Linked DNA regions of Homo sapiens: region 1 is linked to region 2. The links come from fine-mapping of genetic effects on gene expression. Tissue or cell type: thyroid. Region 2 holds a variant in brackets; the other region holds the start of a gene. All regions are shown on one strand. Distances are between the middles of the regions. Region 1 holds the start of KIAA1217. Region 2 has its middle 76 kb from the start of KIAA1217.

What was found.
Region 1: it holds the start of KIAA1217, and the variant in region 2 is fine-mapped to the expression of KIAA1217 in thyroid (GTEx, PIP above 0.99).

The regions. Positions count from the first base shown.
Region 1 is chr10:24,200,786-24,215,954 of GRCh38, reverse strand. KIAA1217 reads right to left here and starts at 6,817. Exons shown (of 21, transcript NM_019590.5): 1 at 6,692-6,817. The coding sequence starts at 6,761. RefSeq lists enhancers at 958-1,546, 5,999-6,058, 5,432-6,631, 12,948-13,713 and a silencer at 6,349-6,398.
Region 2 is chr10:24,125,737-24,140,905 of GRCh38, reverse strand. It overlaps a transcript of KIAA1217 not described here. Among named protein-coding and RNA genes, the nearest start is that of KIAA1217, 76 kb to the left of the region's middle. The variant C/T (reference allele first, on the strand shown) is at 6,805.

The DNA of each region.
Region 1 (15,169 bases), 75 kb before region 2:
CAATGCAGCCACTTGGCAAACATCGGATTGCCTTTGGAGCTCACTCCTTCCTTTTGTCTCAATTTCCTGCCTTGTGCCTTCCACCCAATGCCCAATGCTCTATCATCCTGTCTGCCTCCCCTCCTACCTCGAGGCACCTGCTCTCCTGTCACCAGCACTCAGAGCCACCTAACGCCACTTTCCACACAAAGGCACTTCAGCACATCTGTCACTTGAGCCTTTTCCTCGACAAGGCTCAGCTCTTGGAAGCGTCAAGCCCCACACCTGGGGGAGAAGCAACAACTCTGCCATTCCAGCCATTTAAGGAGAATGTGGTCTTTTCAGTGGAGAAAAACTAAGAATGATTACAAACTAGAGAGGGATCAGGCAGAGGACATTTAGTCACAATTCCACAGCCATGTTGTCAGAGATCTGAGCCTGGCCAACTCCTCATTATCCACATGAATAGAGAAAAGCTCAAGTGTGGATTATCCAAGTCATCAAAACAGAAATACAATTCGATTTCTTGTTTGGAATGCGCTTTGGTGTTAACATTTAAATATGGGTGTGTCTAGCTGTTCGCTATTCTGGGAATCCTTGTCAAACAAAATAATGAAGCTGTAGCATGAAGGCAAGGCTTGGGCTTGCTGAAAGGCAGTCCTGTTTCCCTTTCCTGCCCCTCCCAGCCTCTGCAGAGCCCAGGGCAACTCCTCCTGGGAGCTCACTTCAAGCAGGGCAAAGAGCAACATAGGAGCTTAAAGCCGAGCAAAATCCCTGGAACATTCCCTGGAGAAGTGAGGACAAGGCAGGCAGAAATGCTAAAGGGACACTCTTCAGGAATCCAAGGAGCTCCCAGGCTAGGATTTGGCATTCTGGAAAGAAAGCATAGAAAGTAGGGGCTGGGGCAGACACCAAACACGCAGAGGCTCATGGAAGATGGGGCCTCCTCAAGGAGAAAGCCGCACTGCAAGTCCGGCAGGCAGGCAACTGCAGGCGCTGCCAAGGCCAGCTTCTTTGCCACAACTCGGGTTACTCTGGCTGGGTCAGCTGACCTGCAGCAAGGGATTTGGGGCCTTGCACCACTCAGGCATTCCACACCTGCTCCAGAGCCAGCAACAGTGCTGATGGCTTCCCTGAGATCCTATTCCTGGGTCAAGATTAGGTAGGCCACAGACTCTTAGGGAAGGCATCCCTCACTTCTTTCTAGTGGCTTCTGGTTAGCTGTCTCCTTCTCAATTGTGCTGAGAAGCTCTCTTGTCATAGGGAGCATCATAGGGAGTTGCTGTTTGGTCTGGTTGTACAACCTCTCTGGGTGTACCGTGGCAGAGACAGCCCTATGTGTTCGACCAGAACGCTCTTCTGCTGCACACAGAGGAAGACCACATTTTCCAGCCATCTCCATCTCACTGGGTCCTTGTACTAATTCCAGTCAATGTATTGTGGGCAGAAGCCATGTGGGCCACCTTTTGTTGGGGCCCCTAGACCTCCCAAATAACCTTCCACGTTCTCTCTCTCTTTACTCTTTGGCCAGTTGAATACAAAGGATCCAGCAGAACCCTCCAACGCCGTGGGGGATGCCATAGTGACAAGGCAGGAGGAGCCTCATCGGCCACCCAGGAAATCCACCTGGCCACAGAAATCACACTGTGCTGTGTCTGAGTGAACAATTAACCTTAATCATGCAAAGCCACCAAGATTAGAGGGTGGTTACAACAATTAGCCTATCTGATTAATACACATAATCGGTTAGCAGGCCGCAGAATCCTACAGCATCCCTCAGTTTTCAAGCTCCCTTGTTTTTTTTCTTTGTTTGTTTTTAGAAACAGGGTCTTGCTCTGTCACCTAGGTTGGAATGCAGTCATGCAATCATGGCTCACTGCAGCCTCAAACTCCTGGGCTCAAGTGATCCTCCTGCCTCAGAATCTGGAGTGGCTGGGACTACAGGTGCATAGTCACCATGCATGGCTACTTTAAAAACATTTTTTTTTGTAGAGATGGGGTCTCACTATGTTGCCCAGGGTGGTCTAGAACTCCTGGCCTCAAGTGATCCTCCTGCCTCAGCATCCCAAAGTGATGGGGTTAGCTCCCTTGTTACTATCATAATATATATACAAATCAGCACAGAAATTACAGCTGAAACCAGGTCATTATATTCCTCTATAGTACCTTAAAATTTTACCAGTGATGAAGAGGATTTCTGGTATAGATCTTAGACAAAATAGAGACAGGAGCTCCTCTTCCCAGAAAAGCATTCTGTGTCAAGCACTGATTGATTCATTCATTCATTCATACAAATATTTATTGACTGCCTGCTCCCACACTGAAAGGAGTTAGGAGATACAGTGTGAAGTAGATCAAGTCAGACTTAATGCCCTCATAGAGGAGTCCACATTTGAAATAGGCCAACCACAAACAAATCATATAGACTCTAAATGTCATGTAACGGTAAGTGCTTTGAAGAATGAAACGGGATAAGGGTACAGAGACTGAGGGGGCTGTTTTAGAGGAGGCTTCTGCATATCTGATTCCCCAGGCTTGCACTCGATGGGAGGCTGCCAATCAGACAGTGGGGAAGGCAAGCAGGTGGGCTAATAGCACTTCACTTGCATAGAGGTTTCAAGACCTTAGGAACCAGAGCAAAAGCACACACGTCAGGACTGCTGTGGACAGAGTCATCCCAAGGAATGCCTATGCCCCAGGGTCACAATGTAGAGCCCATGGGCTTCAAAGAGAATATGATACAGTTAGATTCATGTTCCACCAATAATTGTTGAGTGCCTACTCCGCAAAGCACACTATGCGCTACACTTCCCCATTGTTATTTACCTGGTAGCCGGGCTATTCAGCCATGGAAGCTTCATTGATTAGAGCTATTCTTAGGGTGATCATATACCCCAGTTTGCCAAAACAGCTCTGGGTTACAACTGTTGTCCCAGTAAAATTATTTGAGTGTTCCCTTTCACTTTCAAAAGGATCTCATTTGGACAGTAAGTTACATGATCACCCTAGGGATCCTTATCTATAGCAGGATAATAAACTCAAAGTCCCAAAGTGGTAAAATTAGCCTTTCATTCAACAAATGATTATTGAGTGCCTTCTACAGTGCCCAGTGAGTGCTCTGTTAGGTTGCCCAGTGCTCTGTTAGGTGCTGGAAATGCAAACGTGAATAAATAAAACATGGTCCTTGCTGTGGAATATCACATTGTCATTGGGTAAAACAGATACACAGGCAGACACAAGAGAGAATGCAATGATAGAAATGAACGTTATGGGTGATGTTAGCATCAGAGATGTTGCTCTCCCTTGCGGCACTCGTGCTCACCGGGAGAACTAAAAATGAAGCCATGCTTCTCTACAGCATCATATTCACCCAGAACTGAACAGGATTTTAAAAATCTAATTTGGATTTTTATTCCACTTTTGCTATTTTTTCCAGCCCTTCCTTCCAATCTCCCTGACCTCTAGATGCTGGACTGCCTCGGGGGGCATCCTTTGGACTTTTTCTTCTGCACACAGATTCAATCTTAGGGGATCTCTCAGTTCTCAGTCTTCCTTCAGCTCTAGTGATTAATATCCAAATTGTAGTCAACATCTCCACTTGGATACCTGATAAACTTCTCAATCCTAATCTATCAAAAGATTGCTCCTCAGAACCTCAAACCATAAACACCCTCTCATCTGTTCTTCGTAAATACTCCCCAACTTAGGCAAATGGCAACTCCGTTCTCCCAGCAGCTTACACCAAAATTTTGGAAGTTGTCTCTGACTCCTCTTTTTCTCTTACATCCCAAGTTGAATCCTTTAGCAATTGCTTTTGTCTTGTCTTGTTTGTCTTTTCTTTTTTCCTCTCCTCTCCTCCCCTCCTCTCTCTTCTTTTTTTTTCTTTTTTCTTTTTCCTTCCTTCTCTTTCTCTCTGTCTTTCTCTCTCTCTTTCTTTCAGAATCTTACACTGTTACCCAGGCTAGAGTGCAGTGGTGTAATCATGGCTAACTGCAGTCTCAACCTCCTGGCTGAAGTGATCCTCCTGCCTCAGCCTCCCAAGTAGCTGGGACTACAGGGCACTATGCCTAGCTAAATTTTTTTTTCTAGAGATGGGGTCTCACTATGCTGCCCAGGCTACAGGAAATGCTTTGGGCATTACCTTCAATATACACCTAGAATCTGCTGGCTTATCACCGCCTGCTAATCACCGCCTGGTCCAAGCTAGCCCTGGTTCTTGCCTCCTTGACTGCAGAAGCTTCCTAAAGGCCTCCCTGCCCTTCCCTCAACCCTACTTGGATTGTGCTCAATACAGCACCCAGTATTACCCCATTTAAAAAGACAAATCCCTTTGTAACTCACCTGGGCAACATAGCAAGACCCCTTCTCTAAAATAAAATAAAATACAATACAATACAATACAATACAATACAATACAATACAATACAATACAATACAATACAACCATGCATGGTGGCATGTCCCAGTAGTCCCAGCTATTTGGAAGCTAAGGCCAGAGGATTGCTTGAGCCCAAGAGTTCAAGGCTGCAGTGAGCTATGATCACACCACTGCACTCCAGTCTGGGTGACAAATGAGACCCTCTCTAAAAAAAAAAAAAAAAAAAAAAAAAAAAAGTAGTCCCACCTGCCAGGAGATTCCCACCTCTTTCAAAATAAAAGCTCTAGTCCTTACAATGGTTTCATGGGCCCTAGGTGATCTGGCCTGGGATTACCTCTCAATCTCTTTTCCTCCCATCCTTCTCCCATGTTCTTGCTGTTCTTTGAAAACATTACATCCCTGCTGTTACCTCTCCTGTCTTTGTTCAAATATCACTTCAGCGAAGCTCTTTCTAATAATCCTATTTACAGTTTCACTCCTTATTCCTTTTCCTGCTTTATTTTTCTCTGTAACCTTATTTCCATCAAATAGGGTTGCCAGATAAGATACAGGACTGCTCAGTTAAATGTGCACTTTACATAAATAATGGAGAAGTATTTTTAACATAAGTATATCCCAAATATGGCATGGGATATACTTATACTAAAAAAAAAAAAATTCACCGTTTACCTGAAATTCAAATTTAGCTGGGCCTCCTGTATTTTTATTTGCTAAATCCAGCAGCCGTGCCATCTAACATGCTATATATTTTATTTATTTGTTCATTGTCTGTCTCTACCAGCTCCCCACCCCCTGAAACTTGGTCCTTACACTGGAAGTTAAATGAAGGCAAGTATTTTTAGTCTGCTTTGTTCACCACTGGATGTCTGGCAGCTAAAACAGTGACGTCTACATAACAGATGCTCAATATTCACTGAATGAATGAATTAGTGAGCAAAGGAGCACACTGTCTCAGGCTGACCATCCTAGCCTCTGAAGCCTCTGAATTGCCCTGATTGTTGGAAAGTCATTTCTTAAATGGATCCCTTTCTAATGGCCCCTCTAGAATCTGAGTCATCTCTTTCAGGACAGGCCCAGAGGTTGAATTCCTGAAGTAGGATCCTGTCCTAGAAAATGGGGGTGGGGGGTTGCGGGGGTCAGGGGGACGAGGTAGCCTTATCTTCCACTGGATGCCACTGACCCCGGTAGCCTGAAGGAGAGTGCTGTGCTTTGGCAGCACGAAGGCAGACACTTCGACAGATGACTGTTCAGACTCAGGGATTCTCCAGCCATTACAAAACTTCAAGTTTTCTGCATTTCACTGGGGGATTTCTATCTCTTGTCATTGTAAGTTCTCCTGACTGGCTTAGCTTTGCATTTTCAGCGTGGATGAGTCATGTGTTACTTCCCTTTCACATTTTCATAAAACACACACCTTTTCCCCTGTGCATAATCCCTACTCCCACGCACAGCACTGCACTCCCGCACGTCTTTTTGTTGTGTACTGGCCCCTGCATGAACCTGAGGGAGGGTGGGGCGGGTGGTCCAGGGCTGTGTGGTTTATGAACATGCTGCCTATAGGATCCCACAGAATCAGCTCTTGGCATCACAGGCATCAGATGCCAGAGAGCAGGGACCTCCTCTGGCCACCCAACCCGGTGCGAAATTTCTTTGGAACAACATAAGCTTCTGGAAATTCCCTACGGAAAAGACAAGTCTATTATAAACACAATTAAAGGGAAACTGCCTGGAGAAAATTTACCAAAATTGTCCAACAACTCCCAAGTTTTGAATTAAAACATAAAAGAAGATCCAGAGTTCTATCTATCACCCAGATGCTCAAGCCCTCCCCTGCTGCTCGGATCTGTAAAATAAAACATGCCTGGTTTCTGTGATTTAACTCTAAAATTCTGCACAAACTTTGCAGCCAGCATGCATCTGCCACATGGAATCCCCCAACCAATGAATGGAAGCTGCGGTCCTAGAGACAGTTTCACAAAAACAGCTCCTTTCTCCCGTGGCTGGAGCCCCGGGGGGAAATGATTAAAAGCTGCTTAGTGATTTATTTGTCATTGCTTAGAGATACAGCTCATGCTGATGGCTCACTGCACTACAAATGTGACATCACCCCACCACCTCTTTTGCTGCTTAAGAAAATCGTGCCAGAGATAAAGTCAAGCCTAAGAAATCACAGTTCTCTATGCTCTACTCAGTTTGGAAAATGTACCATCCCAAGAAATTGCCTTTTTTTTTTTTTTCCTTTGCCGGGTCCCAGAGCTGCAGTTTATAAAAAGCAGCAAGCGGCAAGGGGCACGCGTCCCTGTAACTCCATCTTTGAATGGGTCTGTTACTTACCCTGCATCTGTCTTCTGTCTGCTGAGTAAGGAAGGCACGGCTCACATTTCTGGCTTTCATTTTCTTCCATTGTCTCTGCCTGCCGCAAAAGCTCCTCGCTCTCTGGAAACTTCAGAGCGCAGTTCTAAAAGCTCCCAGAAAGCGCCTGGGAGGGGGCCCGGGGCTGGGGAGGAGGGGACGGTGCGAAACCCCACCCCAAACTATTTTCCACTCCGGTGCAAAGTCTCCCTCGCCCGAGAAAACTGCATTCCAGCGCGGGGCCTCTTGGATCTCCCCTGCCCCTGGCCCTCCGTCCCTAGGTCTGTCCGTCCGTCCGTCCGTCCGTCCTCAGGCGCGCTCTCCGGGGACTGGGGGCTGGGCTCTGCCAGGGCAGGGCGATGCGGGGGTGTGGGGGGGAGGCCTCAACAGGTGACGGCCTCTCCTACCCACAACTGGGCCTGCCTGGTTCCACTGCTGCAAACCACCGAGGCTCTGCAGCCGAGGAAGGAAAACATTTCACACATGATTAAGGCCGAGAGCCTTCGCTGGGAGCCAGTGCCCTCATCTCTTTAATCTCAGAGGCAGAGTGAGCCTCCCAAATCGGGTGATCCACATATTAAAAAACAGCAACCTGTTGAACCTCCCAAATTTCAGTGAACTCCCTTAAAAAAAAATCCCAAACAATTTGAAAGAAAGAGTATATGCTGAGTGTTGTAAGTAAGCACTTTCCGGCACTAACTTTTTAGGGCCCGATTAACATCTATGAAGAGGTATAGCGTCATTTGCACACAGTCGATTTCAATCACTTAATCTGGACTTTTTAAAAAAAAGTTTCTACGTACTTGCTCACTTTCTCAGACTCCTCCCTCCCCCAACACACTTACACACACACACACACACACACACACACCCAGCCCTTAATCACAAATCTGAAAGGTAAACTAGTAAAGTCAATCTTCTGAAGCTCTCCCAGTTAACGACTCCAAAAATCTGAAAGACAGTGAAAATGCATTTCTTTGGACAGGCAGAGTTACAACCAACATACTTCTCCTTTTAAACCACCTACAAATATTTATTTTGTTCTTTACCCAGTCCTTGAAAAACTGGCAGAGTTCCCAGAGAGTGAAAATAGGAGGCATGATGTCCGAAAAAAAAAAAAAAAAGAGGATGGGAAAATAATTTAGGCAACATTAGCTCTGCGATGTCAGATATCTCAGAGTAACACAGTAGCTAGGAGGAAGAGCGCGATTTTGTAACCTGTAGTAGCCCCGTCACAGGAGGGGTAAAAAAGGACAATGGTTAGTCTGGTGACCATACTTTGCCCCAGTTTACAGGGCATTCCAGCAAGGTTTGAGATTGATTTAGATCAAGAATGTGTGCTGAACAATGGCCAGCCTATGTTCCAGATTGTGACCTCGAGTGACCTGTGTGTTTTGGCAGTGGGGGTGACGTATTTTGGCCATTTAAGACATAAGGATGTGGAAGCACCTAACAGACAAAGGATGTAGGCCAAAAGGAAAGGAGACATACCAGGAAGTGAGTTACACTCACGTCAGGAGGGGAAGAAGAGAGCCCCTCAATTCTTAACGGGATTTTTCTTGAAATCCAAGAAGACGCGGTGAATCTTTCAAAAAATTAAAGCAGTGCCTCGGCAGCCTGAATAGAGGCAGTGGGATTTGCAGGGCAGATAACTTAAGGTCTCTATGACTTTGCAACAGAATTACCTGGCAATCTTGCTTTAAGGAGGAACTAATCTTACACAGTTTCTGTCCTGGTGGCCCCTGGGCAAAGGCCAGATGAATCTAGTTTTAACCTTATTATTTCCTTAGGTGCAAAATGTTCATGAAGGAGGGCCCTGCTGTGTTCAGCCTTTCAGGTCCAGATCATCCTGATTCTTGTATACTGTTGTGTATTTGTCTTTAAAGTATTAATGCTAGGAAGAGTGGGGAGGAGGGTGGGAGAAAAGTATGTGTGTGTGTGTGTGTGTGTGTGTGTGTGTGTGAGAGAGAGAGAGAGAAACACTGTAGCAGGAGATGCAGCAGCCCAAATCAGATGTCCCGCAGCCTTTGGTTGTGACCCCAATCCCCTTGCTCTGGTGTCCAGAGAGCCCGTGCTTAACAGCTCCTACCTGTCATTTGGTGTAGCACAAAGGCAAAAACCCCAGGATGAAGGAGGCAGCAGAGGGCTGCCACAGCCGTTGGCAGCCACAAACAGCACCCTGCCCCAGGGCCCTCCTGGCTAGCTCAACCCAGGCAGAAAAGATCCATTGGCAGATGCTGATTAAGATTTCCTGGGGGCTGTTTGGAAGGTGTCAGAGCAGTCTTTCAGGCCTCTGTTGACCCCTAGATGGACAAAAATAGGGAAATGTCTCCCACCAGGTCTGAACTACCATTTTCCAGGCAGCCCAAGGAACCCCCTTGGTCAGCCGACCTTGCTTTCCAGCTGCTAGGACCCTCCCCTCCCCCATACGGGCCAAGCCCACTGCCCTCTCTGCTGATATTCCAGGAAACAAAACTCTGTGATATGCACAACAGAAAAAGGCATTGGGGGAAGAGAATTAACATGAATCATTAAGGATCATGAAACCTAGACATGTATTTATGGTAAAATAATGTTCTTTTGAATGATCAAACTTTCTGACCATTCTATAGGGAAAAGCTTCTATTGGATTACTTACTGGCCTTTTGTTCCTCCTTAAGAAGAGGAACTGAAAACAATTTGAGAAGGCACTCTATTTGCCCTTGCACCGACTATTCCATATCTTTCTCCAAAGCACAGAGACCTTCCTAACAATTTAGCACTGATTGTCAGTGTCTCTGGAAAACAGTAGCTGTATTCTGCAATCTATATAAACCTGGTAACTCCGATCTTCATGAAAATACTCTTATTGTCACTGCTGTTACTGTGGAGATGTTCTTCTTTCTGGAAGAAACACTATTTGAACTAGAAGTAGGTGTATTTCTTTCTGGTTTAATTTAATTTCTGGGCTTAAAAATTGCTATTACATTGCAATCTGCCTACTGCTATACTTTGAAATTTGCTGTGAAAGGCATAAGGAAAGCGGGAAGAACTTGAAATCTGATTTTCCTCCAGTCATATAAAGAACTAGAATAATAATAATACCAGGAGGCTAAGTTTTCAACTCCGTTTCTGTTAACAGGGAAAGGTGCAAGACTATTTCTTGGTTAGTGGTTCCATATGTTGCAATTCATGACTCAAAATGAGCTACCACATAAAACAAATGTCATTTAAAAGGAAAGACAAGTGACGAGATAAAAGAGTGCTGTAAAGACAAATGGTGATTTTGCAGTCATAGCTAACCCGTTACAGAACTGGACCATTATTGGTGTTGATAACGCAACGTAAATGGCATTCACCATAAAGAGAATTAATCACAAAAATCGTAAACAATTGCATATGATTTCTCAGCAGGCCAATTATAGGGTTGTGGAAAGCATGTCAACTTCCTTCATGTAAATTTTTCCTTTTTTCCTTCTTTCCTTTTTTTTTTTGAGACAGCATCTTGCTCTGTCACCCAGGCTGGAGTGCAGTGGCATGATCTCGGCTCACTGCAACCTCCACCTTCTGGGTTCAGGTGATTCTCCTGCCTCAGCCTCCCAAGTAGCTGGGACTACAGGCACATGCCACCACGCCCAGCTAACTTTTTGTATTTTTAGTAGAGATGGGGTTTCACCGTGTTAGTCAGAATGGTCTCGATCTCCTGACTTTGTGATCTGCCTGCCTCGGGCTCCCAAAGTGCTGGGACTACAAGCATGAGCCACCGCGCCCGGCATTTTTTCCTTTTTTTTGAGACGGAGTTTTGCTCTTGTCGCCCAGGCTGGAGTGCAATGGCGCGATCTCGGCTCACTGCAACCTCTGCCTCGAGGGTTCAAGCAATTGTCCCGCTTCAGCATCCTGAGTAGCTGGGATTACAGGCATGTGCCACCACGCCTGGCTTTTTTTTTTTTTTTTTTTTTTTTTTGTATTTTTAGTAGAGACGGGGTTTCACCACATTGGCCAGGCTGGTCTCGAACTCCTGACCGCAGGTAATTCGCCCACCTTGGCTTCCCAAAGTAATCACGCTGGGATTACAGGCGTGAGCCACTGTGCCTGGCCTATGTAAGTTTTTCAACAGAGAAATCATTGCAAGAACCAAGAGTAAGTGGAATTGCCCTGATACATATTTAATATTTTTTCACTTTAAATCCTATTAAGAACCAGATAGTTGAAAATGACTTGACATCAGGACACAAAAGAAATAATTAATGCTTGCTGAAGTCCTTAAAATGTACTTTTCAAAGGCATTCATAACTGTGAGAGTCAATTAAAACAAAGTGAAAAACAAAGAAGTCAACAAAAGTGTTTCAACCAGAGGCCTCGTGTTTGATGTGTTCCACATTAACTGTTTCTAAAAGACAGGCTGCTATGGTATGAGGCCCTGTAAGTCAGAAATAAAGGATTTTTAACAACTGGGATAACATTTGCTTAAATGGATGATCTGGCGCATGTGAAATGTGGGCTCTCCAATCCTAGTTTTGACAGCAATGTGTCAGGTGGTTAGGGTGACCTTATACTTAGTATAAACCAGCATTTGTGAGAGGGAAAGTAGACACTATTAATAATTACAACTGGACAATAAGACACCACGACTGTCCCTGGCAAACCAGCACAGATGGCCACCTATGTGTGATCCCAAGATAAGCCCTCTGGGCGCCTTAGGTTTCCAAATGTGAGGGGAACATAATGATACTGTTTGAGTTTCCCAACAAAGACCCTATAAAAGAATCTGAAACAATAATTAAAAAATAATTAATCTTAAACAATAATTAGAGCAAAGGTGTGAGCCTCACACGGACCGTATTACAAGCCCCACTAACAAACAATTTCGCAGATTCCATAGTATAATACATTTCTATATGACTCATAGATCAAAACAGAATTTTCCCTTCTGCGTTAAGAGCAACAATTTCACCAGGTAACCTCCAGCATTCTCTCCAGAGGGTAACCAATCTTCCCTTACTTAAAGTCCTTAAAATTCCAGTGGCTCCAAGGAGATCCTGCCAGACAATAAGTGAGGTGCCCAGGAGCCCCTCGCCACCCACCAACACTCAAATCTCCCTATGAAATGTCTTGGAACTCTCCTGCTACTCCACACAAATTCCTCATGTGGTCATATGATGTGAAACTACACATAGATCCAATGTGTTAATACTTTAAGCATATTTGCTTTCTTTTTAAGAGAACCCATTGATGTTGGTTTTTATTATGGTTTCTTTTATCTATTTTAAGTTGGAAGATAGATGCTGGGCAGCAAAGACCCCGTGTGCACAGCACTGTGGCCAGAGCTGGCATCTGTGCAGCATACCGTCTTGAAAGCCCCGCTCAGCTCTGCCCTCTGGTCACTGCAGACAAAGTCTGGATTCCAGGTGGCAACTTATAAGTGAAAAGTGTAACATGTATCTGCTCACCCCTTTTATCCCAGAGGGAGCAAAACCATGGCATATTTCCCAGAGTTCCTGAAGGGCCAGGGTGGAATCCACGAGAATATGAGAGCTTCTACAGATACAAGCACCTGGGTTGCTACCTTGCTTTACCCACAGTGCCTCATTATCAACCCTTTCAATAGAGTATTTGGGGGAAAGAGACTCTCCTGGCTTATTTTCTGCCCTTGAGCTTCTCCTCTGCCATTTCTCAAAGCTGCAGTGACCTGTGGAGGTGGGGGTTGGGGGGTAGGGGGAGCAAGAAGGAAGGGGAACCAATCAAGTTGCCAAAACTAGGATCATGGAGTACACTTCTCCCTGTTTCCCCCACCAACATCCCCCAACTTTGCTGCTGAACAAACTGACTCCTGGAGCATTCTCGAACGTGTGGCTCTCATCTCTCCCATCTTTCTCGTCTCCAGGGTCCTGTTCAGCCTTTGCTCTGTTATACTTGATGAATACCTTAGGATCTTTTATCCTCTTTTTTCACTACTGAAGTCCAAGGCAATTGTCCAAGGCGACCCCTCAATCATCAATATTATTTTTATTATTTTGCTAGATGGAAATGAAGAATAAAAGGGGAGGTATCTCTCTTCTTCTTCTTTCTTTTTTTTTTTTTTGACAAGTTTTTACTCCACCACCCAGGCTAGATTGCAGTGGTATGATCACAGCTCACTGCTTCAACTTCTTGGGCTCAATCAATCCTCTACCCTCAGCCTCCCAAGTAGCTGGGACTACAGGCACACTCCACCATGCCTGGCTAATTTTATATTTTTTTGTAGACATTAGGTCTCACTATGTTGCTCAGGCTGGTCTTGAACTCCTGGGCTCAAACAATCCTCCAGCCCTGGCCTCACAAAGTGTTGAGATTACTGTCATGAGCCACTGCCCCTGGCCCGGTATACCTATTTTCTAAAATTCCTCTTCTTTCAACTATAGAATTGGGTCTGGTATTATTTGGGGGGCATTGCTGTAAGAGCCCTAAGGCATCATGCAGTTCGGCCATAGATATTTATCAAAGTCTCCCTGCAGCTGGGCGCCTGCTCTAGTCACTGAGACCTCTAGTCTGTAAGCTAAGACTGTGATGCCAGGGACCTCCCTGGGGGGCAGGGCTTCCAGGAGGATGAGGCCAAAGATGGAAACCACCCTCAGAGCAGAGGAGACGTGGAGCTGCTAGGATAGGGGAAAGCGCCTGTGAGGGGAGCTTGGGAGCAAGGGTGCAACCAGAGCACAGCCTTTGGGCAACGGTGCTCATGAAGGCTTGGGGGCCGTGGTGCAGCCCAGGGTGGAGGGTGGAGGCTCCGAGAACAGGGCCCTGCAGGTCACCCTGATGCAGGAGAAGGAGAAGCCTGTGACTGGTGTCTTGGAGTCCTGGCAGGGATTGCCTGTGCCCAGGGAGTTTCCTGACCGCTCTCTCCCCTGAGCTTTGCTCTCCTCTCCCCCTACCTTTGGAATTCAGAGCTCCTCACCTTCCCTCCCAGGGCCAGCGAAACAAGTGAATTGCCCTGATCACTTTGATCACCTCTACTGGCTTCTCTGCCAAATAAACACTGAAATTGACTTTGTTTCAACAACGCAGCTAGTTTTATTTTGTTTTTGTTCCACTTTTTCATCAGTTCTCAGCCTCCGGTTGAGTGATGGCCATAGGCTTTAAGAGAAACAGAGACACAGATGTTACAGAATGAAAGGCGCAGTGCAAATACATTCACCTTTCCATGTCACCCCCGGGAGGCTGACAGTCCTGCAGCCACACCTGGAGCTGAGGGGGTCACCCAGCACCCGGGGCTGGGCCGCCTGCCTGCGTGCAGCCTGCACTCCCTCGGGGGTCTCAGAACACCAGGAAGAATTGGGAATGGGGTGCTGGATAGGAGGATCAGGGGTGATCAGGAGGTTGGGGGCGCTCGAGAGGGGTGTCCAGAGACTCAAAGGGCTCACTGTAGCCCCTGCTTTGCCCTGAGCCATGCCTCCAACTTCTTCAAGTGCCTCACCCTCGAGTTTATAGAATTCTTGAAAGCCAGTCACGTGCTTCAGAAGTTAAGTATTTTTACAGTGATTTTATTTTTCTCTCCCCACCTCAGTCCACAGAATTGAAGGTGGGGCGGAAGCAGAGGCGGGGTAGGGCAGGGTGGGGACTTCTGTTCCTTGCAGATGGAAAAACAGTTTTAATACAGAAGGACTAATTTCTGGAGCCAAGTGGGTAGAGGGGGTGCTGGCATGCAGGAGGTAGAGGAAGCCCTCCAGGATTTACAAAGTATTGATGGCTAAGCTTCTCTGCCCTAAGCCGAAGTGCATTTTGTGTTTCTCCCCAGGGCTGCTAGAGCTTAACATTCTTCATTTCCCAGATGACATCGTTTTGCTTTGTAAACACTCCCTTTTGCAAAATTTACAATCTCTGAACTGGACAATATTGAGTGGGATAAAATATTTAATGACTGGTTGGGCCAGGGTTTCCATAACACTATATTAGGAGCCTAATTTGTGTAACGCTTGAGTTCATAAAAGTAAAAAAGGTGCAACGAATTTTTTTGTTTTTTGAGATGGAGTTTTGCTCTGTCACCCAAGCTGGAGCACAGTCTTGGGAACTTGGCTCACTGCAACCTCCGCCTCCTGGGTTCAAGCAATTCTCCTGCCTCATCCTCCGTGGTAGCTGGGATTACAGGTGCGTGCCGCCACGTCTGGCTAATTTTTGTATTTTTGGTAGAGACAGGGTTTCACCATGTTGGCCAGACTGGTCTCGAACGCCTGACCTCAGGTGATCTACCCACCTCAGCCCCCTAAAGTGCCAGAATTACAGGTGTGAGCCATGGCACCCAGCTGCTGCAATGATTTTTAAAATTGTTTCTGCTTGCCCCCTACTGCCACCTCTCATCTGCACATACCTTCACCCAACATGTTCAGCAGCAGCACTGATACAAACTGGTGTGGAAAATGGACTACAGGACCTGATGATATTCCCAGGCTCACTCTGCTCACAGGCCCCTTCTGAGAAAGGCAGCTGGGGATGCTTCCTTTCATCACC
Region 2 (15,169 bases):
TAGACACTGTTGACAATGCAATAAGACATGACACAGAAGTGAGATATAATGATTGCAAAGGAGACAATAGGATCACTATTTGCAAATTCTAATAAGAGGTAACGTTCGCAACCACTAAAGGTATGTCAAGCACGGCCTTTAGATAATTTATATACAGCAGCCCCACCTTATCTGCAATTTTGCTTTCCGATGTTTCAATTAACCTCAGTTCAAAAATATTAAATGGAAAATTCTAGAAATAAACGATTCCTAAGTTTTAAAGTGCATGCCATTCTGAGTGGTGTGATGAAATCTCATACAGTCCTGCTTCATTCCACCCAGGACAAGAATCATCCCTTTGTCCAGAGGATCTACCCTAAGTTACCCACCCACAGTCACTTAGGAGCTGTCTGGGTTATCAGATCGACTGTCATGTATAGGTACCATAGTGCTTGGGTTCAAGCTTATTTTACTTCATACTGGCCCTAAAGGGCAGGAAAAGTGTTGCTGACAATTTGGATATGCCAAAAAGAAGCCATAAAGTGATTTCTTTTTTTTTTTTTTTTTGAGACAGAGTCTTCCTCTGTTGCCCAGGCTGGAGTACAGTGGCACGATTTCGGCTCACTGCAACCTCCGCCTCCCGGGTTCATGCCATTCTCCTGCCTCAGCCTCCTGAGTAGCTGGGACTACAGGCGCCTGCCACCTTGCCCAGCTAATTTTTTTGTATTTTTAGTAGAGACGGGGTTTCACTGTGTTAGCCAGGATGGTATCCATCTCCTGACCTCGTGATCCACCCGCCTCGGCCTCCCAAAGTGCTGGGATTACAGGTGTGAGCCACTGTGCCCGGCCCATTGCCATAAAGTGATTTCTTTAGGTGAAAAGGCGAAAGTTCTCAATTTGATAAGGGGGAAAAAAAAAAAGTATGCTGAGGTTGCCAAGATCTATGGGAAGAACAAATCTATTCATAAAATTGTGAACAGTATATTGTTATATTTGCTTGACTTTACTACTAGTTATTGTTATCAATCACTTACTGTGCCAAATTTAAAAATTAAACTTTATCATAGGTATAAAAACATAGTATAGGAAAAAACATAGTATATATAGGACTTGGTACTATCTGTAGTTTCAGGCATTCACTGGGGGTCTTAGAATGTATTCCCCATGGATAAGTGGGGACTACTGTATATATTAAATCAGATGATCTTCATAATAAACCTATAAAATGGATATTATTATGACCATCTCCATTTCACAGATAGGAAAATTAAGGCCAAAATAAATTATGTAAGTTGTTCAATATCACATAGTAAATTCGTGGAAGGCCCAGTATATTAGACTGGGTAGACCATCAAACTTGTGCCCTTACTCAAAGATGATCAATTGAAAACATGATTGAAAAGAGTAAGAATGAAGCAGGCAAACTCTAACAAATATTGAGATATAATAGAAAGGTATAATAATTAGAATATTTTGGCACTGATACAGAAAGACATATAGATGATCGAGACAACATAGATAATTTCAAAACAGAATCTACAATATATGAGAAATCAATATATACTCAAAAAAAGTACCACACACCAATATGGACAAAAGTAAATTGTTTTGGAATAATTATTTAGCTAGTTAGAGTATGTATAATTATATGTTATAGCATATACCTAAACCAAATTCCAAATATATATATTAAAAATGGGAACATTCAATAAACTAGGGAAGTAGAAGTAAATATTAAATCTCTAAAGGAATTCCTAAGCTTAAAAGTGATAACAGCAATCAATATATTTTGCTCTTTAAAAGATACAAATAATTATACAGAAAACTAAAATAAAATGAAAAAGCCAAAATCTTTTGGGAAAAATGTACACCCAAATATGACAAAGGTTTACTATTATTAATACAGTGATCACATCAATTTTAAGAAAACATTCAGAGCCTATGTAAAGGACATACATATATTTCTTTCCTTATTAAAAAATTAGACACAAAAATTCAACATTTTAAAAAGCACATTGAAGCTACACCATAATGTCACATGAGCTTTAAAAAGTGATAAAATCTCACGACACTGAAGTCTTTGATATAAAACTGTAAAATGGTTAAAAAGCAAAACAAAAAACATTTTAGACACTGGGTTCAGGATGTGTGTGAAGATTCTTAAGAATGTAATTACAATTTTGATCAGTAACATTTCTGAGACTGTATGTCAAAAAATTAATTCCAGATAGGGGGAAGTGGTGATATATAAATGTTCATTGGAGTGGTTTTTTTTTTTTTGGTTAATGAATGGAAGAAATCTAAATTTAAAACCACAGGAAATTAACTAAGTCGATTATATAATATCCATTTTATAGAAAACTGTATCATCAATAAAACTGTGTCTACAAATAGCTTACAATAACATAAAAACACATAATCTAATGAAAAAAGTCTAATCATATACATAATAATTGCAAGTATGTGAAAAAATATATACAGGCCAGCTCAGTGGCTCATGCCTGTAATCACAGCACTCTGGGAGGCTGAAACAGGAGGATTGCTGAATCCAGGAGTTCAAGACCAGCCTGGGAAACACAGTCAGACTCCATCTCTAAAACATAAACCACCCAGGTGTGGTGGTGTGCACCTGTAGTCCCAGTTACTTGGGAGGCTGAGATAAGGGGGATCGCTTGAGCCTGGCAGTTCGAGGTTGCAGTTAGCCATGACTGCACCATGGCACTCCAGCCTGAGTGACAGAGAAAGACCCTGCCTCTAAAACAAAACCAAAAAGCAAAAACCTCCCAAATTCAACCAAATACTGTAAACCAAAAGTCCAGAAGAAAACTACGCATAATACTAAGGTTGGAAAGAACCTTATGCTACTATACGTTCATAGTGTTTATCTTTCATTTTTCTTAATTTCTATTTTTCTGCATTTTTCAAATCTACATTAAAAATACATTATTTTTATATTTTAAAATAAGTTAAAGAAAAACAACCATCCTTTGCAACAAAAAATATCCCAACAAAATTCTTTTGTGCATTTGGAAGAATTAAATATGAACTCACATGTCCACCTAAACCCTTGTTTTTTAAGAGCATGCATAGAAAAGAAGTGTTTTTACTAAGATGTCATGACATCAGCTTAATAAGGGAATAAACAGATACCTAAGCATTAGCACTTCATACTTTTTAGAATGAATAGGATATTTTTGATAATAAAACCTTCCAAATAAAACGCAGTGTCTTTATTGTTTTCAAGTTCAGGCTTGGTATACCCTAGCAGAGTTACAAATGGCATGTCACATTTTATGTAATAATATGATTCTACTCTATTTTAAAAACTCCTTGCTTAAAAATTGAACTCAGGTCAACAATTTAAAACAAAGTCTGGGCAAACGTTTTGATTCTTGGCCCACATTAGTGGTGCTAGACATCTCAAGAATAGCAGTTTTGCTCAAATGTGAGAACTTCCAAAGAGTGTTGGTGCAGCAGCAGAAAATGCCTGCAAAGTGTCAATCTCTGCTCTGATCACCAAGAAGACAGCAATCTCCTGGGGGCCTAGGGATGCCCTGCTGCAAAACTGGCATTTGGCTTGGAGCAGGTGAGAGCATGCCTACTTGCAGTCATTGGGTCTCTGCAGGATTCAGTCATCACCACACGTGGCTGCCTGGGGCAGGGGGAACTATGGGTCTTGCCAACAGCAGTGAAGGCAAACCTGCCTTTCTGCAGCCTTTTGACATGTAGGTAGTCTCCAATATGATGATGATGTCAACAATTCTTTTACTTTTGTACAGGGATTAATAGTTGCCAATGTCCTCTCAAATGTGATTCCACATGATGCATGTTTTTACATGAATATGTCAGAATTTACGTATTAAATGAGTGCTATCCCTTCAAAAGAGTTACCTTATTTTAATGACACCGTCATCTTTCAAGCCACCTTTGATTCTCTACTTTGGACCCTGATGCCAGAGTATATTGTATATTAAACAAAAATCTTCTCAATGTTAGCAACATCTTGACCTTTAGGGTAGGCTTAATGCTTTTGTAAACAGCTAAAAAGAACAAGCCTTGTGAATAACGTGGACAATTCAGCTACACTCTGAGTGAATTTCAAGGACCACGCAGAACCTCCCTCTTACTGCAAAGGGCTAGTTAAATGCTCAGTCAATGTTTCCTCGAAGAACCAGACTCAAAATATGTTGTTATTGGAGATGGAGGTTTTCCTTGTAAATATCCAGGTGAGATTCTAAAGTCAGGAGGCTGTTGCTTTGCATGACTATAAACTCACAAAAAAGGTTATGTAGACAGTCAATACAAATCATAAAAATATTTTCAGCAAAGGTGGGATCATCAGTGTAAGTTTCTACCCTCGAAGATGACTAGTCATTTGACCGCGTTCCGGTGTATCTCTCTCTCTCTCTCTCTTTTAAAGTAGCCTTCATATTTTATAGTCCCATTATCATAGTAAGAATAACTTATAAAAGATAAGCACTGAATAAATAAATGTTCACTTAATGAAAATTTATCCTCTCAAAAATCCCTAGTTTAAAAAATCTAATAATCTCAACTAGAATTTAAAAAATTCCACTCCCCTCCCCTTCCTCTTTAGAAATCGAGACTTCTGGATATAATTTATCCATTTTTTGATGACTCAGAAGTATCTTTGCAAGCATCAATTACTCATTATGTTTGAAGATGCCGGAAACTATAGCACAAATATGCATAGACCTCCAGAGCATACAGAGATGTGGATATTCTTTGTACCGATGCCGAATGGATCCATATTGCTATTTTGAAAATAATTCCTTTGCTTCCTTTTATCTCCTCCTTAGAGTGGGCCCTTCTCTCATGCCTGAATCTCATACTCTAATACCCCTCTTTCTTTGCAAAATCTTCACTTCTCTGGGAAGAGTAATTAGAATGTCAAATGTTAAAATTGTCTCCAAACTAGGTATGTAGCTATTGAAGAAGAAGCTGGAGAAAAGTTCTGTCTCCTGTTTTCAGCATGAAAGTTGTAATACCTATACAGAATGCCCAGAGACAGTTTTTACTTACTTATATGTCTGCCTGAATTTTGGATAGATGAGATTTCAAATTGCAGCCTCTAAATAAGTGAGGTGTCACTTAGAACCTATTTGATACACGGAGAAACCACAACTCAGAAAGCTTCGCAGCAGAGCTGGGACTACAGTCCCTGTCTCCTGCGTCTTGCCAATCCTTTCTGCCTTCAGGCCTAGGTCTGTGCTGTTTCATCTAACTTGAATGTCCCACCCCTTGCTCACCTTGCCATCTCCTCTCCACGCTGCATGGACCGATATGTCAGGTGTCAGCTCTCTCCCCTCCTCTAGCTCTGTCCTCCTTAAAAACCTGTGATCACACCGGAATAACATTCAAGCCCTTTTGGCTGGCATGTCTCCTCCCCATTATCCATTTTATTTCTGCCTCCCTGAGCACTTTAGACACAGAGGACTGGGAACCTGCAAACTCAGCCCCGCCCAGTCCCCACGCCAATCCCAGCGGAGGCAAGCAGAGACGGAACTGGCAGAGGGTGGGTGCTTCTTGATGTAAGCTTGGTATTTACGGGAGCTAAAACTCACTGACTTAAAGTCTTCCCCCAACTTCCACTCATTCTGTTCATGAAACAGAACATCTGTCTCATCTTCCTGATTTTTCCTCCAGATCCCTTGCTGAGACGGGGACCATCACTGGTGTGGCAGCCCGCTGCTTGGAATCTCCATCCTCCTTCTCCTCTTGGAGGAAAGAGAAGGGAGTGTGTGGATTGTTTTATTATATGTTATTATTACCACCTTACAGATGAAGAAACAGGAGTTCAGGGAAGTCAAATTACTTGTTGGAGGTCACAGAATGTAGGAGCTGCCTGTCAGAAAAGGAACTTCTCCTATCTATAGAAATTTGACTCCCAAACTTACTCCAAGCTGAGGGTACTACCTTCAAGCACAACTTACTGAATTTATCATCCCACTGCTTACACTTCCTTGTTTTCACACCTAACCTATCACATCAGCCTGCTTGGATATCAATTAGATAAAAATTAATGCCTCAGCTGGGCGTGGTAGCTCACACCTGTAATCCCAGAACTTTGGGAAGCTGAAGCCAGAGGATGGGTTGAGGTTAGGAGTTCGAGATCAGCTTGGGCAACACAGTGAGACCCTGTCTCTACAAAATATATAAAAAAGATTAGCTAGGTGTGGTGGCTTGTGCCTATAGTCCCAGCTACTTGGGAGGCTAAGATAGGAGGATCGCTTGAGCCCAGGGGTTCGAGGCTGCAGTGAGCTCTGATCATGCTACTGCACTCCAGCTTGGAGAACAGAGTGAGATTTTGCCTCTAAAAAATAAATTAATTAATACCCAATACCTCCATGGACACTATGGATACTGTAAACTAGACATCTGACTACCTACTGTGAAGGTCAGCGCAACTACAAGGTTCTCCTTTTGCCCTTATTACCTAGTCCCAGATACCTTGCCTTTTGTGCAGACAACCTGCTGAGGTTTCAAGCATATCTTATGCTTTTGCCCAAGCTGGAAGCCAACACTTTCTACCTTAATTTTAATTATTGCCCCATGCTTGGCTTCAGCCAAATGGAACTAATTGCTCTCCTACCTGCATCTGCTATGTTTTTCTGTCTCCTTACCTTTTTATGTTTGCTCTGCTAAAATGCCCTTAACAATGCACCATCAGCCACCTCTCCTCCACTAGCCCATCCCAAATCTCTGCACATCTAAATCCCTTTATCTTTAAGGTCTGGTGCATACACCTTCATCTCCATGAAGCCCTTCCTTAAACACCCTTGTACTCTAGCTAGAAGCAAATGA[C/T]GTCTATTTCACCTCCCAGAGTACTTTATTTGTACTTCTCCTGGAGCACTTTCCCAGAATTCAAAGGCAAACATCATATTGTACAAATCAGCTGTGTCAGCAAGAGTCATAAAAGAATGTTGCTTTTGCCTGTCATTGTTCCTCTAAGCCTGATCCAAGGGGTTGGTTAGCTCTTTCTCCTGCCTCTGATGAAAACTACTATTTTCTGACCACTCCTAGTTAAGAAAAAGTTCTATTTTCACAGTAGGTTACAAAACACAGTCTGATTTCAGAAATTAGGATGGATGTCCAGCCCAATATTCATTAGCACCTGAATCATCACTGAAAGCTAACATTTCATCATTTTACAGCCATGGCTGCCCACAGGCAAATGGGTGTCTTCAATATAAAGAATATGTTTGGCTGTCTCTTTCTGTCTATGTCCATTCTCCTTCACTCACTAGTTGCTGTTTTGATCAGCTTCCATCCCCAGGGTTGAAGTAAAGAAGAGAGATAAGAGGAATAGGCAAGACATTTTTTTTTTTTTTTTTGAGACACAGTCTCGCTCTGTCGCCCAGGCTGGAGTGTAATAGTGCAGTCTTGGCTCACTGCAACCTCTGCCTCCTGGGCTCAAGTGATTCTTCTGCCTCACCCTCCCCAGTAGATGGGATTACAGGTGCACTCAACTCTGCTTGGCTAATTTTTGTATTTTTAATAGAGACAGGGTTTCACCATGTTGTCCAAGTTGGTCTCGAACTCTTGACCTCAAATGATCCACCCGTCTCAGCCTCCCAAAATGCTGAGATTATAGCATGAGACACCGTGCCTAGCCAAGATCTTTTTTGACTAATAGAATCATGACAGCTTAACCAATATTTAACACTGATCCTTTCTCTAAGACTACTTTGTGCGGGTTCCTCAGAGATTCTCCTACTCTTTTCATTCTTGTTAAGCAAGCAGTCTGAATTCAGCTGGTTGCTTCTTTCTCAGCCCCTAGGGATCTAGGCTCCACTTAAAGGTTTTCTCTCCTGAGGTTCCATTTTTTTTTTTTTCTCTCAGTGGCCATATTAGATGCATCCTCATTCTTCTAAGAAACAAGCTCCTGCTGGCTGATTTCAACCAGCAACAACTTTCCTTTGCTCTTGCCATCTGAATAACTAGCCAGTTAGGGTGTAACTTCCTCCAGATTTCTCATGTTTGAGTCATCAATCCACATCTACCCTCTTCCAGCTCCAGGAGGTATGTGTCAAGTTCTCAAAATGGTACTGTTGAAGTCAGTCTTCTTAGCATTTAGGTGAGGCGGCAGACAGCCCCCCAGCCTCATCCGGTGTCTTTTTGAAAATAGAAATTATCCTCACGAAATCCTCTCTTAACCTTCACTCTTGGGGGCCATATATCCTCTTTATGCTGACAAATGTTTCATGTATAGAACCCATTCTTGATATTCCGCTGGAAATTGGCACCTTGGTCTGGTACCTCACTTTGGAATTTCATATCTATTAGAACTGGGAGCCTCAGTAGAAATTTTCAATTTAACATCCCGGTGCACAGCTAGAAAACAGTTTACAGAGAAACTGCTCCTTTAGAAGACTGGGTCCTGCCGGAGGGCAGAGACAATGTCCGATTCATCTTATATTCCTCGTAGCCTCTAAAATTGAGCATGTTCTCTCATAGGCAATATGTAGCTATAGCTCTCTGAAATGGACACACTTGGTCTTGTATTTTCTTACAGCGACTGGCATTCAGGACCAACCACAGGGCTATTTTTTCACACACCTTATTAACTCCAACTCAAAATTATTGATGATGTGACAGACTGCTCTGTGTTAATCAAATCCTATTTTCTTTTCGTCTTTCAGCCAGCTGGGTTACATTTTTCAGCCTCCCTTGCAGTTAGGTGGGACTGTGTGACTGAGTTCCAGCCAATGGGATGAAGGCAGAAGTGAGGTACATCACTGTCAAGTCTGGACCCAGAAGACCTCCCAGGCAGTCCTTCGTGATTTTCTACCATGGGTGGACTGCAGGCAGAGAAGGTGGGGGCCCTCAAAATAGCAAAGCCATATGTTATAAGTAGCTTGGGTCCCTGAATGAGTGCATGGAGCAGAACCTCATGCTGTATTCATCGGACCATCATTGAACTATGCTGTGTGTAATAACCACACTTTTATAGTGAGAAGTCACTGAAACGTGGAGATTGTTTATGGTGATTATGTCTACTAACACAGAGGGCTAGACTCTAATGATACACTTCTAAAATCAAGCTAAGGAAATTCTTCGAGGAACTTTTTATTAACTCCCCAGAGAACATGCCAAAAGTTTATTTCCTCAGCTTCCAGGTACACAATCTATTCCTTTCTATGATAGTTTCCATGCCCCCACTAAAATGCATTTCATCATTCTTTTTGGATTAAATGATTTCATTTTTAGTTCAAAGAAACCTAGAACAATTATTTCCTTCTTTTTATCATTTTCTCGGGCCTGTAGGCAAATAATTCATTTTTAATTAGAAAATTGTTATGGGATATAAAGATGTACAGCGGGCATAATTATGGGACGCTAACTTACAGACTTGTCTCTTTTCCAAAGGGCTGCAGTTCAGGATATGGTAGGCTGTATTTGTGGAGTAGGAGAAAGATAAGTTCATTCAACCATGCATATTAAATTACAAGACTTGGAATCACTATTTTTGTGAAAATGTTTTCTCCATATTGTGTTCATTCTGACATTCTTTTCAGATTTTCAAAATAACGGTTCCATTTGGCCTTTAAATAACACAGGATGGGTAAATGTTGTTGGTGAAAGAGATGAAGCTCCAAGGTTGAATTTGAACATCTTTGCTTCAGTGTTCCCAGGTTAAAAATACCTCGAAAGAAACACCACGTAATCGAAGAACAGCAGAGCTATTATGGATGAATGTAAAATCCTAGGTCTGAAGAGTTTAAAATAGTCTTCAAATCCACCTTGGATCTCAGTATGTTAATGCTATTTTTAATAAAATAGAAGGAAAGTGATTTCATATCTTCAACAAGTATGTTTCAATATTCAGTAATGCTGAGCTGTAATAATTCTTTAACTAAATCATTTATGTAGTAATCTAAAGATATGTATTTTTATTCCCCCTGGAGGAAGAACTGTAATCACTATCTCACCAATCTTTACAAACTTTAAATTTTTATCTTTTAAGTATACCAAGGAAAGTTAGAGGCTTGTGCCCATAGATTAAAAGGCGTCAGTTTAAAGTCATGTCTACCAATTGGCCTTTGAAATCTAGAGGTAACCATAAGATAGCCAGAGATTTTATAAAGAAGTTGCTGGAAAAGTTAATGATGGTGACGAATTATATGGTACTGAACACATATTCCAATCACAGTAAATTTGATAGTTATTGAGAACTTACTATATGGGAGTCATGAGGTGCATGAAAAGGTAATTCCAATCGGCATTATTCTGATTTTTATGAGCAGCTGAATAATACATCTGTTTGGGATAGTTCCTGGATATTTATTTCTTGACATTTTTTCAATTAAGAATGCAGGAACTCCATAGTACTCTATCAACTCTATATTCCAGGCATACATTTGCTAGTTCATTTTACATATGGAGTTGGATACTACCATCATCATTAACTGCTTTGATACAGATTATGCAAAGTAAGGATTCATTGATGCACACAAAAAGATGCTACAGGACATGAAACTTCATAACTGCCTTAAAATAGCCTATAATCTGGTTCCAGGAAAATAATAAAACATGGCATGCCCAATGCATGCCAATCACACATGTTTTTACATAGGAAATCGTGATGCTTGAGTTATATATAATACATTTGAAGCTAGTAGCACTTCAAATAACCCAGTAGCCCAGGAGCTTGAGGTTGCAGTGAACTATGATTGCGCCATTGCGCTCCAGCCTGGGAGACAGAGTGAAACTCTGTCTCTAAATTAATAATAATAATAATAACCCAATAGCCCAATCTAGGAAGTTTTCATTGAAAGGTTGAGTTATAACTTGTACACTGAAGGAGGAAAGGATGTGAGTAAAAAGGTTTTTCTGTGAGAGATGGCAGAAGCAAATGGTGAACAAGTTTCTGAAGAATATGCATATACTAAGGATGAAGGTCTTATTAGGAAAGGAGGAAGGGGGTACAGGAAGTCAAAGGTTATGCGGGACAGGGGATGTGGGCAGAGACACATGCAGCCTATGATCATGAATCTGGCCCTTGATCATGAGAGACACATGAGGCCTAAGATCATGAATCTTAATCAAAATAATAATAAGTCAATGGAATGGCATAAAAAGAATAAAGAAAAAAAGAACTCTGTGAAAAACTGAGAAGTGGATGGTCCACTGGACAGGAGGAAAGGGAATTCACATCAAGTTTCTAGGAATGGGTAAGAGGCAATTATAAAGTAACTGAAATAGATTAGTTGAAATGATCAGATACAGAGATATAGGACAAGAGATAACAGAGTCATATGGTAGGGAGGTGTCATACAGTAGCAGAGTCATATGGTAGGCTGTTTAAAATCAAGATTAATCATGAGAGTGGCAGGAGTCCTATTGATTATGAAGTATAACTGTTCTAGAGTTAAAAATTAATGATTATATACTTTAAAGACATTTGAATTATTTATTGAATATATATTTATACTCACTTATGCCACTTAGAAGTATGAAGTCTATAATATACCAATGACCAAATGAGACCTACAAGTGTCCTTTCAAACATTAATGCTAAGATCTTAGGGAGTAAGTATAACTCCTACCCCTGATTTTAGCAATTTACTAATTCTAATGATGTTATTTCTCTGATGCCCTTGAGTAGATACAATAAATAACAGGTAATGACTATAAGTTTTTCATCCTGGCTCTCCTCTAATCCACATAATGACTCTATTACACTGCAGTAAGGCACATAATTGAAAGTATAAATTAAAAGACAAAGATAACAAAAACCTTCGGGTAGAACTATCTGCATCAGCATTTTCTGTACATAGTAGGAGGTTAGTACCTTTCTGCCTAGCTCAATATGGCCCACTTCCAGCATTTACTTCATCCCATATGACTTCAGGTGAGAAAGGATTACTACCCTATACAAAGAGGGAAAATATTTCTTTGTTAGGGAAATGCACTCCGACTAAACTTTAGCTGAAGTAGGGTTAATTCTGATTCTCTTGAAAAGAGGTATGCAGCCTTTAACAGGGCCATTGAGGGCCTTGGCTACGAGAGCTTAGGTAATAACACTAAAAATGCAATGTACTTTAGCTAAGAATTATTAATGCCAGTTTATGAAAGTAGAAAATGAAACTATTCATTCTTATTTATCTCAAGTCTTTGGCCCTGCCTGCTCCCAGTTCAAGCTTGATAAACTATGAACTTGCAGCTCGTCTTAATGGGTGGTAGAAGACTGTGCTCCATTTCTCCTGGGACTTCATGCTCATTAGTCACAGACGTCAATTAAAAGCTTTGTTAGAGAACCAGAGGAATGTGCCACAGCACATGTAGAGGCCCGGAAGCCCCTTTCACTTCTAACATGGATGAATGAGTCCCCATGGCATGCGAAGCTGCACATCAATAGGTCGTGTGCATCAGCAGACAGGATCAACAAAAGCAGCGCAAAAATGTTGAAGTCAGCACTTTCTGGAGCCAGCCCTATTCATTCCAACTGATAAGGATTTAAACATTTTCATTAGCTTTGCTGATCCCAGTTATTTAAAATGACAAACACATTATCATTATTTTTAAAGCAAGTTACATAATCTAGGGTGCAACCCAGGCTTGATAATTTTCTAAAAATGATTATTGACCCTTGCATCCTCCTCCTGCAACCATGAGGGGTCGAATTGAGGTTAATGTTCTGGCAAATCCCTTAGGATCCAGACTAACAACTGTTTTGGAAGAGATTATTGCCATTGTAAACCACTGACCAGGGCCTGAGATGGTAATTCTTAATTAAGAAAATAAAAAGATTCAGCGTCTCCGCTCTCATCATGCAGCTAACAACAGACTCCGCCTCAATCCAAACACAGAATAAAATTCAGCAAAGGATGGATTTTAAAAAATAATTTGTTGTAGATACTTAATCTAAAATAATTTGGTGAGGCTTCAGAAATAACTTTGGGTATTGAGTATGAGAAGAATATTTGCAATATTGTTCTTTTTGTATGTGTGTGAATTCTTTGTTTTTATTCCAATTGTGTCTTATTGCTGACTTATTACTAACATGTTGCTTCCAAAGAGAATTTTAGGGCAAAACATTTCAAAATTACAGGATGTTCAAAGGAAGTAATAAAAGTTTCCAACAGTGGGTATTGTGAAATATGTCATGTTATACAATATTCGATAACTTACATTCTTTTTAATCAACTAATTATTTTGTTTGCTAATGTACTCTTTGACATGTCATAAAAATTATGTGGACAATGAGATCTGAGAAGCATTAACAGCAGAGAATAGAGTCCCCATCATATCTGTAAAGCTGCTGGGGTCCTATGGTGAGTAGCAGAAAGAAAAACTGGAGTGCATTGTGAAAATCTTGGACTACTTTGATACTCAGAATTTGATTACAAAGCTGTACACCGGCTGTAAAAGGATTTGTCAGGAACATGTCTCAAGGCAGTAGAAAAATCATAGGATTCCAGGGATAGAAAGGGCTTTGGACTTTTATTATAACTTTTAAAAAGTCTCTTCTAGTCTCTCAATAAGGAAAAGCAAAAGACATTTGCACGATTTCAGAAAATACTCTGTTTCTCTGCAATATACTCCCTGAAAATTTTTTCAAGGTAGGATATAAACCCTCCCCAACCCCACCCTATCTTTTCTCAACACACCAGGCTGTGGCTGCATTTATTTTAAAAGTCCAAAGGAACACAAATCCCCAAAGGTTATACTGTAAGGCATTCAGGGTTACATTAGTTTAATACTTTTCAAGCTGGTTTTTGGACAGTCTACATTTGGACAGAAGCTAGCAGGAAAGTTTTGCATGGAGAATATGATTTGTTTTAGGTCAAAAGGTCAAAGTAGAACTTCTTGTTCTGCTTTTTCTTTTTCTTAAAGAACCTGATAACTTTCCTACTATAACCACTTAGAAATAACTGACAAAAAGACATTTTTTCAAGTGTTTTATTGGACTTGCAAAAAGAGAAAGAGAGAAAGCAAACAAAAAGAGAGACCCAGGTGTAAGGTACAGAGACCTAAGAGCAGTGTGGTAAGATACAAACTGATATTGATCTGCATTAAGGGGACTTAATGGGTCTCAGTGACCTAGAAGCTTAGGTTTAGATTCTTATGTAGTGGACATAAGAGGATAGTGAAAAGTGTCCAAATAAATGGGCACCATAATGATGCCTATCTGTTTCTATCTAGATGCCAAGTGAAGGGAAGAGACAGTATCACTCAGAATTTATAACCAGGGCTATGTGGGTGGTTCAGGAATAACTGAATTAAGAAATTAGCCTAAGGATTCACTTAGGACATGAATTAAAAGCAAATTCAAAATGTCTCTGAAGGGCTAGCTATATCCAATCTGGCTACATATTTGTATACAGTATTCCCCATTGAAGATGAGCTCATAATCCCAAATTACAAATTTCATGCAGAAACAATCTGTCATGAGAAGAACTGCATCACCAGAAACAATAAATATGGGACTTTGGACCCTAAGAAGTTTGGATAAATGAACAAAAGAACAGATTATCTAACATGTTTTAAGTGACTAAGACTAAAGGGCATAAATACTATATGAAAAGAAAAATATGTATTAAAACAATACATCATCTAGAAATAAAAACTATAGCAATTGAACCAAAAACTCCATGGATAGGTGAAACAGCTGTTCAGACAAAGTTGAAGCATAATCAATGATCTGAAAGACAGGTTTAAGGAAACAATTTAGAATGCAGTTGTATAAGAGGATAGGCATAAAGTTAAGAAACAGAGAGCATAAAACAAACAAAAAATTCAACACGTTTAATATAAATTTCTGAAAGAGAATAGAATTATAAATTGGCATTATTTAATGATATATGCCTATACATTACCAAGAATTCATTAAATATATGGTTACTTTGAGACAAGGAGGAATGAAGATTAGTATAGATCCACAATGAGCTACATTGTAGCAGAAACTGCAGAACGAAACAAAGACAAAAGAGATCTTAAAAGCAGGCAGAGACAAAACACAAGTTAGCTACCAAGCGGTAACAAGTAGACAATAGCAGATTCTGCAAAAGCAAAAATAAATGACAGTAATCAGCGAAATATCTTCAAAAGGATAAAGGAAAATAACTGCCAATATAGAAGAATATGTCCAACTAAATTAATGTCTGACTATGGAGGGTATTTGTTACTAATATCCTTGAAAACTGAAAACTGTTTCTTTGGAAAA